Linked DNA regions of Homo sapiens. The protein of the gene in region 1 purifies or fractionates together with the protein of each later gene. This does not show direct contact. Each region holds a gene or a part of one and is shown on either strand. Other genes may lie near its edges. The genes, in order: MTRFR and XDH.

What was found.
Region 2: the proteins of MTRFR (region 1) and XDH purify together in Homo sapiens (affinity purification with mass spectrometry; one large-scale study listed by BioGRID and IntAct). This does not show direct contact.

The regions. Positions count from the first base shown.
Region 1 is NC_000012.12:123,250,296-123,254,105, reverse strand, and holds part of MTRFR (mitochondrial translation release factor in rescue), read right to left. Parts: intron 460-3,810; 5' UTR 432-459; coding exon 150-431; intron 1-149. UniProt on the Homo sapiens protein: Part of a mitoribosome-associated quality control pathway that prevents aberrant translation by responding to interruptions during elongation.
Region 2 is NC_000002.12:31,411,913-31,416,466, forward strand, and holds the start of XDH (xanthine dehydrogenase/oxidase), read right to left. Parts: upstream 2,831-4,554; 5' UTR 2,755-2,830; coding exon 2,713-2,754; intron 1-2,712. UniProt on the Homo sapiens protein: Key enzyme in purine degradation. Catalyzes the oxidation of hypoxanthine to xanthine. Catalyzes the oxidation of xanthine to uric acid. Contributes to the generation of reactive oxygen species. Has also low oxidase activity towards aldehydes (in vitro).

The DNA.
Region 1 (3,810 bases):
GGTGCTCTCTACTGCCTGGCTGGTAGAGGGTGGCCCAAGCCAGAAAAATAATGCACTTCGGCTGATCCCATTCACACTTGGGAGAAATCTCTGGAGGCTGTGGAACCCTTGGGCGGGGCCTCTCCCCTCAGCGGCCTTCTGTGATCTACCTTTACAACGATGCCTGAGGGGATGTGCTTCAGCACCACGCAGTTGCTGGTTTTGTTGGTTGCCTGGCCCCCTGGACCGTGTCCTTTCACAAACTGCTCTTCGAGTTCATTCTCATCCAAGGAAAGCAGTGCAGGGTAGTCCTTCTTGCCTGCCATCTGGACCGGAGTGACAGCTATTCCTGGGGATAACAACGTCAGCTTCTCCCAAAGCCGGAGTCCCCATGGCGCCGGGCATATTCGGGTCAGTGGTGTAGGAAAATGAAATAAACCCACGGTGCTCATAAGGAACGTGGCTCTGCTGGCTGAGGACCTGGGTTAGATGAATAAGGAGAGCTTTCAGTAAGAGGCATCTGCCCTCAAGATTATGCTTCAGATTCAAAGACAGCTTTTTATAAAGCAATTCAAATGATGACCCATCTGTTACCGAGGGAATTTAGGAAATGAGTAGAGACACATTATTCAGCAAGACGCCCCTCTCCTCAGCCTTGCACTGTCTGCCATGTTACCAGGACATGCCCTGCCAGCTAATACATATTTTCTTGCAATAGACCAAAAATATCTTCCAAGCACCCGGGGGTGCTGTTTTCTCAGAAAGGAGAGGTTTTGAGTGTGAAATTCAGGCCGGGCATGGTGGCTCACACCTGTAATCCAAGCACTTTGGGAGGCCGAGGCAGGTGGATCACAAGGTCAGGAGTTCAAGACCAGCCTGGCCAAGATGATGAAACTATCTCTACTAAAAATACAAAAATTAGCCGGGCTTGGTGGTGGGTGCCTGTAATCCCAGCTACTCGGGAGGCTGAGGCAGAGCCACTGCACTCCAGCCTGGACAACAGAGCGAGACAGTGTCTCAAAAAAAAAAAAAAAAAAAAAAAAAAAAAAAAAAAAATTCAAAGGAACGGACTGTAATTTGATACAGGTAAATAGTGCATCAAGCAAAAATTAGGATCTGGGTCAAGTGCCAGTATTTAAATGTTTGAGAATCTCTGAAATCAAAATGTAAAGATGACAGTATGAGAGTCTATTTTATTTTTTGAGACGGAATCTCGCTCTGTCGCCCAGGCTGGAGTGCGATGGCGCGATCTTGGCTCACTGCAACCTCCGCCTCCCAGGTTCAAGTGATTCTCCTGCCTCAGCCTCCTGAGTAGCTGGGATTACAGGCGTGTGCCACCACACCCGGCTAATTTTTGTATTTTTAGTAGAGGCGGGGATTCACCATGTTGGCCAGGCTGGTCTCGAATTCCTGACCTCAGGTGATCTGCCCACCTCGGCCTCCCAAAGTGCTGGGATTACAAGTGTGAGCCACCCCCCACCCCCACCCAGGGCTGAGTAGTCTATTTTATAGCTGAGCTTAAACAGTCTGACATAGTAAACATCACTATCAATCAATGTCATGATTGTTGTTTTTTGTTTCCAGTTTCATGGATTTGAATGTGAACATCTGTTCCCTGGACGCACTGCCAACAACGTGGTCCAACTGGTACTCATCGTTGGAACTACCAAGTCAACTAATTTTTTTTTTTTTTTTGAGACAGAGTCCCACTCTGTCGCCCAGGCTGGACTGCAGTGGCGCGATCACAGCTCACTGCAGCCTTGACTTCCCCAGGGTCAGGCGATTCTGTCACCTCAGGCTCCCTAGTAGGTGAAGACTACAGGCAGACACCACCACATCTGAGTAATTACTTTTTGTAGAGATGGGGTTTCGCCATATTGCCCAGGCTGGTCTTGAACTCCCTAAGGTCAAGTAATCCACCTGCTTCAGCCTCCCAAAGTTCTGGGATTACAGGCGTGAGCCACTGCATCCAGCCAGTCAACTTTTAATAAGGTCCTTGTTAGGTACAGTAAGGGACATGAGATGAAAAAGAGCTGGACTGTCTTCTTGGAGCTTACAGGTTAGTTAGAGAAGATATTAAAAGACAGATGAGATGGGCCTAGACTCTCTGCCTACATCTTTCTCCAGTGCTGGATGCTCCCTGCCCTTGAACATCAGACTCCACGTTCTTCAGTTTTGGGACTCAGACTGGCTCTCCTTGCTCCTCAGCTCTAGACAGCCTATTTTGGGACCTTGTGATCATAATTTATTTGCATGGGAGCTCCTGGGATCATAGCAGACAGGAGGCAGGACTAGATTGTAGCTTCAGACAGAGCAGCATGCAGAGGCTTGCATTGTGAATTTTAGCTCTAGATCAACTGCAAGAACAAACCAGCAATCCTGAGAGGACCCACAGACCCTCTGAAGGAAGCGGATTGCTCCTGCAGGGCCCGGGAGACCCCCAAATACTGTGAGTGCCCCAACTGTGGAAGTGGGAAAGGGAGATCCTCCTCTCCCGAACACACACCCCCCCACTGGAGAGGCTGAAGGTCTGTTTGCAGGAGAAATTTCCAACTTTACCTGGAGCTAAGTCAGACTCAGCAGAGCGAACTACAGGGGTAGAGGAAGCAGCAGAAAGGCCGTGGGAGCTCGCTGGGTCCCCAGAAGGCCCATTCCTGCCTGGCACCACAGGGATCCATCGGGAGGGTGGCCAGAGGAGCAAGGGATAAAACTCCACAGGGAGAAGAATTCTCTAGTCGAACTTCGTAACAATTTAAACAGGGTGAGAAGCCTCCTGGCCAGAACTTGGGCAACTGCACGAATCCAGCATGCAGACTTCACAGGTGGGGGAAGAACTACAGCCCTTTTCTTTCGCTGCTGGGAGGGGCACAGCCTTGGGGCAAATTTTCAAGCCAGTCTCACCCTCTGCCTGGAAACAGACTCGGGGCAGTTGTGGGGGAACACGGTGGGAGTAAGACCGGCCCTTGGGTTTGTGTGGGAGCTGGGTGAGGCCTGTGACTGCCAGCTTTCCCCCACTTCCCTGACAACCTGCATGACTCAGCAGAGGCAGCCATAACTCTCCTAGGTACACGACTCCAGTGACCTGGGAATCTCACCCACATTCCCTACAGCAGCCGCAGCAAGACCCGCCCAAGGAGAGTCTGAGCTCAGACACGCCTAGCTCCACCCCCACCTGATGGTCCTTCCCTATGCACCCTGGCAGGAAGACAAAGGGCAAATAAATCTTGGGAGTTCTAGGGCCCCGCCCACTGCTGGTTCCTCCCCATATTACCACAGCTGATGCTTTCTGGAAAGGACCACCTCCTGGCAGGAGGCCAACCAGCAAAAAAAATAGACCATTAACCCACCAAAGCTCCATTGTACCCTCTGCCACCTCCACCGAACAGGCACTGGTAGCCATGGCTGAGAGACCCATAGATGGTTCACATCACAGGACTCTGCAGATAACCTCCAGTACCAGCCTGGAACTGGGAAGATTCGCTGGGTGGCTAGACCCAGAAGAGAGACAACAATCACTGCAAGTTTGGCTCATAGGAAGCCACATCCATAGGAAAAGGGGCAGAGTACTACATGAAGAGAACACCCCATGGGACAAAAGAATCTGAACAGCCTTCAGCCCTAGACCTTCCCTCTGACAGAGCCTACCCAAATGAACAAACCCTGGTAATATGACAAAACAAGACGCTTCAACACCCCCCAAAAAACATACTAGTTCACTGGCAATGGATCCAAACCAAGAAGAAATACCTGATTTACCTGAAAAAGAATTCAGGAGGTTAGTTATTAATCAGGGAAGGACCAGAGAAAGGTGAAGCCCAATGTAAGGAAATC
Region 2 (4,554 bases), on another chromosome or scaffold:
GATAAATGTTGACTATATGGGGAGTGAGCAAGTGAATGATGAGTAAGTGAGTGAGTGAGTGAGTGAGTGAGTGAAAGTCACCGTGACGATCTCTGTAGCTGACACTCACTTCTTGTGGGGATCACTCCTGGACACCTTTGGCTGCACCCAACCTGCCAGATCCTCCCAGATTCTTCCAGGTGCCACAGTCTCAGCTAGACAGAGTGACTACTCAGAAAAGCTAGAATGCTGCCTTGCAAAAAGGCTGTCATTACAATAAAAATAAAATACTGGACAGCTCTTTCCCTTTGACTCTGACTCTAGAACAAAAGAAGATGTGAATGAAAACAATAGTCATCAAGGCTCATCACCACCACAGAAGGCCCTAGAGGTATTCGACTTCTTGCATCGAACACCTTCTGCAGGACCCCATTTAGTGAAGCCAGAGTCCTGGACAGTGGTACAAAACAAGGAGAGGAGTAGGCTCACATTTAAAAACCAAACACTGCATGTTCTCACTCATAGGTAGGAATTGAACAATGAGAACACTTGGACACAGGAAGGGGAACATCACACACCGGGGCCTGTCGTGGGGTGGGGGGAGAGGGGAGGGATAGCATTAGGAGATATACCTAATGTAAATGACGAGTTAATGGGTGCAGCAAACCAACATGGCACATGTGTACATATGTAACAAGCCTGCACGTTGTCCACATGTACCCTAGAACTTAAAGTATAATAATAAAAAAAAAGAGTCACTAAGTTCTTACAGCTTCTTTGGTAACTACTTTGCACAATTCCTGTAACAAAAGGTCTAGAATATCTTCTGAATAAAAATGAGGACAACTTTCTCACAGCTGCCATTGTTTACCCAGGAATTCCCTTGCTTGGTCTTGTTTTTACAGCATTGCTTTCACATAATTACTTTCTGCATTGCCCCTCTACCTTTCTTGCAGTTTCTGAAGATGCTACATCATTATAAATTACAAACATGGATATTCATCACAGAAACTGGCAGTAGTAGAAGCTTCTAGAAATAATAGGATTTGATGTGATGGTACCATCGAAAAATTTAAAATTACTCTCCTAAAGTGAAAGTAAAATGCAAGGGAAAATAATTTTCCCCAAGCCAGATTTACCTTGAAATTCTTCTTTCTAGATTTAGTGCATAACAGCAAGCCATCCCTGAAGAAGAGCAGAAACTTATACTTTTACAGGTTAACCAATGGTTTGGTTTAATAAATAATAAAACCTCAGAGTAAGACATGACCTTGGACGTCATTGAATCTAGCTGTTTACCCAATGTAAAAATTACTAATAAAAATTCCAGAGATGGCTTTGTGTAAGTAGCTCTCCTAGAAAGCCAATTGCACAATGGTTTCCTAGATTTCTACAATGTAATTGCTGAAGGAAAGAAGTTGTTTGAAATGCTGGATGCAAAATCTTACACTTGAAAGCTTTGCCCTACTTCTTGGGTTGGTACCAGGTGCCAACCCTGAAAAGGATGCAGCTCAGAGAGGAAACTCTGAACCCAGAAGAACATGGCTGTCCCCATTCCCCAGCACTTCCCAAAGGCACCACTCAAAGAGAGTCCATCAATCTTTGGAGCACTGACGTTGAAACAGTTCATGAAATTTCTTTTACAGTCACCCAAACACATCCTGGAAATTTAAGACCTAGGAGTCCAGTGAAGCACATTATTGTTCTTGAAAATTATACCAAAAGTCACTCAAAATTACATCAAAAGTTTCTCAACTCAATGCAAAAATGCCAATATAGAAAGACAAATAAAATTGCCCTTCTTTGGGGGACACTTTGGGCACATTCATCACGCACAGTCCACACAGTAAGTTACAATGTGCAACTATGGGACTCTTTTACTATCCTTTTCATTCCTAAGTGGGAAGTTGAACAGGTATGAGCATCTCAGCAGTGTTGTAGGAGGGCAAATGGAGGCTAGTGACCATGTAATATGCTTGCCCCCTCTCTCTCTGCACCACATTAAAATTTGCAAAGATTCTCACTCTTGTCCAAGGGCTGGTACCCATGTCACCTTCCCTAAGTCCCTGTGTACCAATAAGGTAAATTCAAGTAGGTAACAGATTTGCAGCTTACATGTAGAACTCACTGTGTGTGGGTGGGGAGTGGGGGGAATGCAGGAGATGCCCTTTATGAAAAAAAAATTGTGGTTTGCCACAAGGTGTCAGTATATGTCACCTCACAGTGAATCAGGACTGGCTGTTAAACCTATATATATAATATATTAGAATCAAAGGCTGCGTACATCTTATATCCTGATAAAAGCAGGAAAACACATTCCTGTTCCTTCTCTCTGTAAAGAGAGCAACGTAAATTTTAGGATATATTTGATTAAAGACAGAAATAGAAGTGTGGTGATGACCTCAAATCTCACCTAGAACTCAACTCCCCTTTCTCATTCTGTGCCAATCTCCACTACTGCAGAGAGTTGGCAGCTAGCTCACAGATGCCTCTCTGCTTGCCTCTCTCTCCCTCATTCTTTGGCCTCTGAGTATCTTGTCTGTGCTCTAGCCCCGAGAAGGTCTTCTTCCCTAATGTTACCAAAATGCAGCGACACCTTTAAAGCGAGAGAGAGAAAGACAGAACAAGTAAGAGGGGACAGGAAAGACAGAGAACAAGATATGGCTCTGCCAGAGGACACATTTCCCCTCCCAGGGAGAAGGGACACAAAACCAAAGGTCAGCTCCTACTTACCTTTCTGCCATTCACAAAGAAAACCAATTTGTCTGCTGTCATTGTCACAGGTTGGGGTCCCCGAACTCCAGGTACCTCACTCCTAAGAGACACTGGCAGGTAGTTATCACTGCTCTGTGACCTGAAAGTTACGCCTCCCAATAAAATGAAATAAGGTCCACCAATGGGAGGGAACCAGCTCAGAGCTTCAGGGCATGAAGAGTTCTTGGCAAAAGCCACTGGTTTACATAATCAAGGAAGTGCAAACAATCACACACAGCAAATTACAATCTCCACACCTGTGTCAAAGAGCACAGGAAACTACATCCAGATATCAGTAAGGTTGTTGACTTGGCACTAGGCGACTGTGGGTCTTGGGCGCTGCTCTTATGAAACCTGCTTCGTCCTCCCACTTGCTGCAAGACAGAGAAGGGGAAGACAGAGGAGGGAAAGGACTATTCTCAGAGTCACTGCTAATAGAGCTGATTCACACCCTCTGTGTCTACATTTGTCATTTTACCATTCAGGTTTACAGCAACACAGACTGACTGCATGAATGCAAGAGTCATTCTTTCACAGCCTGGTGGAGCAGAGAGGTCACAGGACATGGAGCCCCATGAACCTGACTCAAATCCTGGCATTTGACCTCAGCATGTTACTTACTACCTTCAGAACTCAGTTGCTTTCATCCTGTACAGGATCATAGAATGATATCAAGAATAGAAGAATGAGGGACAAATGACATTTTGGGAGTGCCTTGTAAATTTGCAAAGAACCAAAACATGTATCACTGTTGAAAAGACATCTTCAACATCTCAACAAATAAAATCCTAATAGCAAACTATTTTTGAGATTTGTCTTTTATTTGTTTCTCTCAGGAAAATATCCTTGACAAGTTGTCAGAGTAACTCATAAAAGTATTTCAAAACACCAAATAAATTAAAATGCTCATACCACATAGTCATAGGCTACAGTAACACATAGCTGAAAACCTTTCCCCATCCAATATCCATTAACTCTCAGTGGAAACACAGATGTGCACGTCCACTGGAGCAGCACTAAAGGGCTCTCTGCAGTCCAGCACCCTCCCAACTGCCCCTACCAGTTCTTTAGTTCAACACACACACACACGCAAAAAAAAAAAAAAAAAAAAAAAAAAAAACACACAGAGACCAGCATTCACTCTGGTCTTCTTCTGTCCTGTAATGACCCATACAGTGGCTCAGCCAGCCTTCCTTAAGTAAGACACCTCCCCTACAACCCTAGCAGGCTACCTGAGGGGGAAGAAAGGAGTATTAGGCAGATGTACTTGATATAGCAACAGCTTAGAGAAACTGAAGACTGACAGGACAACCACACAATCAACACAATGCCCCCTCTCACCACAGCCTTAATTTAACCAGGAGATGAAACTTTACTTGTTGGTTGACCAAATATCCCAGTTTGCCCTGGACTATCCTAGTTTTAGCCTTGAATCCCTGACAAATGCCTCAGAGATCCTAGTAAATCCTTCAGTCCAGGGCAAACTGGGATGGTTGGTCACTATAAAACTGGTTGTTGGCTGGGCATGGAGGCTCACACCTATAATCCCAGCACTTTCGGAGGCCAAGGTGGGTGGATCACCTGAGGTCAGGAATTCATGACCAGCCTGGCCAACATGGTAAAACCTCATCTCTACTAAAAATACAGAAATTATCTGGGAGCAGTGGGCCACCTGTAATCCCAGCTACTCTGGAGACTGAGGCAGGAGAATCACTTGAACCTAGGAGGCGGAGGTTGCAGTGAGCTGAAATCATGCCACTGCACTCCAGCCTGGGCGACAGAGTGAGACTCCATCTCAAAAACAAAACCGAAACCAAAACC